Linked DNA regions of Homo sapiens. The protein of the gene in region 1 purifies or fractionates together with the protein of each later gene. This does not show direct contact. Each region holds a gene or a part of one and is shown in the gene's direction. Other genes may lie near its edges.

Region 1 (3,500 bases):
GAAATGAGTGTTCTACAAGTAAATAGTCATCCCTGGAATAATCTAAATCAAAGGTATGTTTCAGTGTTAGGAGATTGTAGGGGTACTTTTTCATGTTCTTTGTCAGAAATAGGTATAGAGTAAGTTTTTTTCAAACTATTGAGATACTGAGAGTAATAATATTCTCTCCTGGGATGTTTAAAGACTTATGGTCTGATCACATTGCCAGTTTGTGCTAAGATTTTCACCATTTTACTTGATGATAACTCTTCTCAGAGTCCAAAAGTAGACAAGGTAGCTAGAAATGCCCTTGTGCACTGGCTGAAGCAATCCTGATGATGGCGGAACTTCATCAAAGCCCACTGGATACTTAAAGGGATGGCCTTAGGGCAAATATTGCTTTTAGGCCCTGAAACAAAATAAAGCTAAATATGAATCTGAGCTCTTGCTTCTGATAGATATAACACCTATTCCTGACACCTGGATCAGATGTGTCCCATCATGGCACTGTCGGTCTCAGGCTGTGTCCTCCCCACCAGCACTCCTGTGGCAGAATAGCTCACTGTCACGCTCATTTTCCATCAAGAGGCGGCAACACTTACAATGTAATGTGGTCAGAGTGATAGCAAGTCTCCCCTCAACACTGAAAACTCTTGTTTTATTGATCTCGTTTTATTGACTTGAAAACTGTCTTGTTTTATTGATTTTTTTTTATTGTCACAATTGGGGGTGGAGATGAGTGCTGCTGGCCTCTGGTAGGCAGAAGCCAGGGATGCTATTAAACTGGCACAACACAGCCCCTTCCAAAAGAGAATTATCAGGTCCAAACTGTCAATAGTGCTGAGGTTGAGAAATCACGATCTAGAAGTACAGGCTTTGCTTGTAGCCCTTGATCTGCAAGAATCCTACTTTACAGTAATTACAAGTAAGGATATACAGATTGTATTTGCTGGTGATTTTACCTATGTTCTTTGCCAGCCTGGCTAGGTTTACTTCTTTTATCAGTGGAAAGTGACAGGTGCATCAGTCCTCTCCACTGATGCCAAAGAAATACCAGGTGTATCCCTTAGAATGCATATAGCCAATCTCCTGGATTTGCCAACACCCACATATCTTTAATGGTCTTCCAGACATTGCTTTCTTAAGATGTTTACATTCTTTATCAGATTATCTTTTACTCCTGGCGCCAACCACTTTAGCATGTTTTCAGTTATTAGAGTCTTAGGATAGTATTTTCTTTGAGATTCAAACAAAAAAGTATTCTACATAGTACTTGTAATCTCTTTCACAATTGTAATTGCCTTTCACAAAGCCGACATTGTCTGATTTTTTGATTCTGCTGTTTATATCTTGGTAGTGTTACCTGTTGGTCCCCTAGTAAACAGTGACAGCAATCTTCTGAACCAGGCTGAGGCCCAGTCAAGTGTAGATAGACATGTATTTCTTATCTCACTGTGGTTTTATTTTTCTGCATGTCTGCCCTAATCAAAGCTTGTGCTGGGAGCTGCAGTGCATCTCATATCTCGGCCTCGGGAGGAATGGTTCATTGCATATTCTCTCAGAGACAGCTGGGCGCTTCGCAGGGAGTGGTCCCCCTCCCTGTCACCAGGGCAATTCTCTTTCACATCTCCCAGGACAGATGGAGAATGAAGAAATTAATAATTCATAGTGTGTATTTAAGTGGTGATTCTTCCTAGACTGAGACATACTTGCATTTTGTTCAAAAACATCTTGATGAAGACAGGCCCAGTGGTGACCTAAGAGTTAGAACATAGGAAGTAGGGAAACTCTTACTAAGAAAATGGACAATACAGGCCAGGCAGGGTGGCTCACGCCTGTAATCCCAGCACTTTGGGAGGCTGAGGCGGAAGGATCACCTGAGGTCGAGGGTTTGAGACCAGCCTGACCAACATGGAGAAACCCTGTCTCTACCAAAAATACAAAATTACCCAGGTGTGGTGGTGCATGCCTGTAATCCCAGCTACTCAGGAGGCTGAGGCAGGAGAATTGCTTGAACCTGGGAGGCGGAGGTTGCAGTGAGCCGAGATTGCACCATTGCACTCCAGCCTGGGCAACCAGAGCGAAAACTCCATCTCAAAAAAAAAAGAAGAAAGAAAATGGACAAGACAGACTGAAATTAGCTAGCAGCCATTAGCTCAGGTACCTTTTAAGTGCTCATTGTACTGATTGATGTTTGGATAGTGCATTAGCAGAAATATTATCTACTTGCACTTACGTTCATGTGATCTGTAGGACTCAGGGGTCCTGTTTGTGTCTGTAGTCATAGTTAAGTTTATAGTCAGTTCCTGGTTGGTGCTGGGGAAAAGAAATCAGGATGCATTCATTGTGAAATACCCTTACTGTCCTCTCAGGAGAGAAGAGGAAATGAGTGTGTTCTCTCTCTTGGTTAGAAACAGATAAAGCTGTGTCCCATTAGCAGTTGGATAGGAAACGGTAACTGGAACCTTCTGTCTAATCTGGTTTCCTTAAATGTAAGGAGCAGATAACTGCATCTGGGGAGTAGTGCTCTTAATAAGGATTATGGGGGCTTCAGTTGCAATGGCTCCAGTTGAAGAGCCATGGGATTTCATCTGTCCTGAATCATCTGAGTGTTATTCTTCTTCACATTAACTGTGTTTATCTGTTATAGTATATAATTATGCTGGTTTGTTATGTATTTGAAAAGCACTTAGCATGTTTTGAAATGTAGCGTTGAAATGACTTTAAAATGTCAACTCTGTAGTTTTAGTTTTAGGGCACAGTTCTTGCAAATTCCTGCTTTTCCTCTCTGACCCTAGTAACTCTGAAATCAGTAGTTGCAAACAAACAAACCCTAAAGCCTTGTGTGTCACTTTTCTTTGGGATAGTTGTTGAATTCAATAGCTCATTATTTCACGTAATATTATGTTCATAGTGCAATTTAACATGTAGTCTTTGAATGTTATAAATTCTAAAAGATTAAACAAGAACATTAGAAAAGGAATGAAAAGTGCTCTTAAAATCCTGCCCTAGGCCGGGCATGGTGGCTCACTCCTGTAATCCCAGCACTTTGGGAGGCCAAGGTGGGTGGATCACCTGAGGTTAGGAGTTTGAGACCAGCCTGGCCAACACGGTGAAACCCCATCTCTACTAAAAATACAAAAATTAGGTGGGTGTGGTGGCGCATGCCTGTAATCCCAGCTACTCGGGAGGCTGAGGCAGGAAAAATGCTTGAACCTGGGAGGCGGAGGTTGCAGTGAGCCAAGATCGCACCATTGCACTCCAGCCTGGGGACAACAGGGAGACTTCGTCTCCAAAAAAAAAAAAAACTCCTGCCTTTCTTGTAATCTGATGAAAGAACTCTGCCTACAGAGGCTTTTAACTATGCAAATTCTTTCCATATTTTTTTTCTTTTTCCTAATATAGTTTATTAGCTTTTACTCAGACTAGGTATAAATAAATAATTATCCCTTGCCTTAGAGGTGAAGTCATTTGAAAGCTCCATGGAATACATTTCTTCTTTAAAAACGCAACAAAAATTT
Region 2 (3,500 bases), on another chromosome or scaffold:
CAACAGGAATATAAACTTTTGGTTGAGATGAATAAACTCTACAGATTTGATGTATAACATTGTACCTGTAGTCAGCAGTAATGCATTGTACACTTAAAAGTTGTTAGGAAAGTAGATGTCATGTTAAGGGTTTTTACTACAGTAAAATAAAAAAAGAGTCCATGTGTCATAATGAAGATTAAATAACATAAAAAATGTGTGGTACAATCTGGCATATACAAACTACTTGTTAAATGTTAATATTTATTATTTAATGTTTATAATACTTAAAAGTCATTTTGTATTTCGCTGTCCTTCGGTTTTGCTTGTTTGTTTGTTTGTTTTGACACGGAGCCTTGCTCTGTCACCCAGGCTGGAGTGCAGTGGTGTGATCTTGGCTTACTGCAAACTCCACCTCCCAGTTCAAGCAATTCTTCTGCCTCAGCCTCCTGAGTAGCTGGGATTACAGGTTCGTGCCACCATGCCTGGCTAATTTTTCTATTTTTAGTGGAGACGGGGTTTTACCACGTTGGCCAGGCTGGTCTTGAACTCCTGACCTCGTGATGTGCCCGACTCGGCCTCCCAAAGTGCTAGGATTACAGGCGTGAACCACCGTGCCTGGCCAATTTTTGTATTTTTAGTAGAGATGGGGTTTTATCATGTTGGCCAGGCTGGTCTTGAACTCCTGGTGATCCGCCTGCCTCGGCCTCCCAAAGTGCTGGGATTATAGGTGTGAGCCCCCGCGCCTGGCCATCCTTTGTATTTTTTGATGAAAAAAAAAAATTTTTTTTTTTTTTTTTTTTTTAAGACAGAGTTTCACTCTTGTTGCCCAGGCTGGAGTGCAATGAGTGCAGTCTTGGCTCACTGCAATTCCCACCTCTCAAGTTCAAGCGATTCTCCTGTCTCAGCCTCCCGAGTAGCTCAGATTACAGGCACACGCCACCACGCCCGGCTAACTTTTGTATTTTAGTAGAGACAGGGTTTCATCATATTGGTCAGACTGGTCTTGAACTCCTGACCTCAGCTGATTTGCCCACCTTGGCCTCCCAAAGTGCTGGAATTACACAGGTGTGAGCCACCACGCCCGGCTGTTTTGATGAAATTTTTTGAAAGAATGTATTCATATTCCTGTAGATTTCCCATTTCCCACATTCCCTCAAATTTAGTTTCCGTGTTAATATCTTCTATTAATTTTGAACAGTGTCTTTATTGTAGTTTATGCAAAGTGAGGAGTGAGTGCCATACTTATTTTGCTTCCTGTTGAGAATAAACTGAAGTTAAATTACTGACATTTTGCATATTATCTCAATCATTTTTTAAGGACCTGTAAAACAGAATAAGGTGAATCCTAATTTGCTAGATGCAGATTTCTTGTAGCTATTTTTGATTCCTGCAGGCTGCTCTGATTTGCTACTTGAGGAGGAAAGCTGATTTGGGGGTTTTCTTTTTGTCTTGGTTCTAGCACATGCAGATGACAATCCAGGCTCTCCAGGATGAATTGCGGATCCAGAGGGACCTGAATCAGCTGTTTCAGCAGGATAGTAGCAGCAGGACTGGCGAACCTTGTGTAGCAGAGCTGACAGAGGAGAACTTTCAGAGGCTTCATGCTGAGCATGAGCGGCAGGCCAAAGAGCTGTTTCTTCTTCGAAAGACATTGGAGGAAATGGAGCTGCGTATTGAGACTCAAAAGCAGACCCTAAATGCTCGGGATGAATCCATTAAGAAGCTTCTGGAAATGTTGCAGAGCAAAGGACTTTCTGCCAAGGCTACCGAGGAAGACCATGAGAGAACAAGACGACTGGCAGAGGCAGAGATGCACGTTCATCACCTAGAAAGCCTTTTGGAGCAGAAGGAAAAAGAGAACAGTATGTTGAGAGAGGTATGTGACTACTTTTTTAGTTTTATGATTTGTTGGTTATCTTTTTTTTCACTGATTAATCAGCATCTTGGCCCCAGTGAATCTACGTGCTCTGCCGTGCTGGTGGAAGAGAATTTCATCCTTTGTATTTAAGTGCGTCACTGATTTCTGTTCTGATTTGCCCTGTTGTATGGGATGACATTGTCTGGTATGTATGCTGGCTCAGTGACTTTCTGGGTCTTTTCTCTCCTGCTCCCCTGATTTTGAGAGTTCATTTGTTGCTAAAGGGGTAAAAAATTCCTTGATTTTTCACTCATCTCTAGATCTGTTCATAGAGACAACAAACACAACAAAACCAGAATCAGAATAGCTAACCATTGCTTAATTTAAAAATATTAGTAAAAGAGAGTAAGCGGTTATCTCAGCTTATGTGTGCTTATAAAAGTCCTTGGCAGCAATAATGGATATTTGCCCTGTGGTTTCCATGGAAACTGTTGCCTTGCTGTAAAAGATACGTGATAAAAATCATTGGCTGCCATGGAGGCATAGCTGGAGAGAGTGATGTAGAGACACAGTGTTACTTATTTTTAGCTGACCTAGGTGACTACTGATAATTTTTTACTTTTCTAAATAATGTATCATTTTAAGAAGGCGTAAAGGAAGAAACCATCTTATATTGAATTAAAAAATTAATAGCCATAATAACTTTTCTATATATAGTTGGACTTCAGGTAATTTTCACTTTTGGGCAGGGGAAAATAAATCCCTAATCTGTGTTAGTATGAGTCTGAATAATTCCTTTTTAAATAAAATGTGAGGAAGGAGGTTTAAAAAATGGCGTATTCCCAAAGCAGCAAAATAATAATTTTTAAAAATACTTCTAAATTTGTAGGTTGTTCTATAATTTTTCCTTTTGTAAAAAGTCTGAAATCTTTTTTAACAGTGAGGGCATTTTTATTTTTGAAGTAGAACATCATTGTTTTTTAAAAACATGATGTTATTACACTGGAAATCCATTGTAGTAAAATTGGGAAATAGATTAACAAAAACTTATAACTCAAAGTATTGTTACCTAGTAGTAATTATTAACTTATGTATATGCTTCCAGTCATTTTTTTTTTATTTTAAATTTTTATTGTTTTTATTTTTAGAGATAGGGTCTCACTCTGTCACTCAGGCTGGAGTGCAGTGGCATGATCATGGCTCACTGCAGCCTTGAAATCCTGGGCTTAGGTGAGCCTTCTGCCTTAGCCTCCCTAGTAGGTAGGTCTACAGGTGCATGCCACCATGCATTGTTAATTTTTAAATTAAAAAAAAAATTTTGTAGAGACAGAGTCTCCCTATGTTGCCTAGGCTGGTCTTGAACTCCTGGCCTCAAGCAATCCTCCCTCCTTGGCTTCTGAAAGTGCTGACATTACAGGCAATATGCCTATGCCTGGCCCATTATTATTATTGTTGTTGTTGTTGTTGAAAGTGCTGAGATTACAGGCAATATGCCTATGCCTGGCCCATTATTATTATTATTGTTGTTGTTGTTGAAAGTGCTGAGATTACAGGCAATATGCCTATGCCTGGCCCATTATTATTATTATTGTTGTTGTTGTTGAAAGTGCTGAGATTACAGGCAATATGCCTATGCCTGGCCCATTATTATTATTATTGT

What was found.
Region 2: the proteins of SDCCAG8 (region 1) and ERC1 purify together in Homo sapiens (co-immunoprecipitation; one study listed by IntAct). This does not show direct contact.

What each region holds. Positions count from the first base shown.
Region 1 is NC_000001.11:243,262,541-243,266,040, forward strand, and holds part of SDCCAG8 (serologically defined colon cancer antigen 8), read left to right. Parts: intron 1-3,500. UniProt on the Homo sapiens protein: Plays a role in the establishment of cell polarity and epithelial lumen formation. Also plays an essential role in ciliogenesis and subsequent Hedgehog signaling pathway that requires the presence of intact primary cilia for pathway activation.
Region 2 is NC_000012.12:1,081,723-1,085,222, forward strand, and holds part of ERC1 (ELKS/Rab6-interacting/CAST family member 1), read left to right. Parts: intron 1-1,441; coding exon 1,442-1,858; intron 1,859-3,500. UniProt on the Homo sapiens protein: Regulatory subunit of the IKK complex. Probably recruits IkappaBalpha/NFKBIA to the complex. May be involved in the organization of the cytomatrix at the nerve terminals active zone (CAZ) which regulates neurotransmitter release.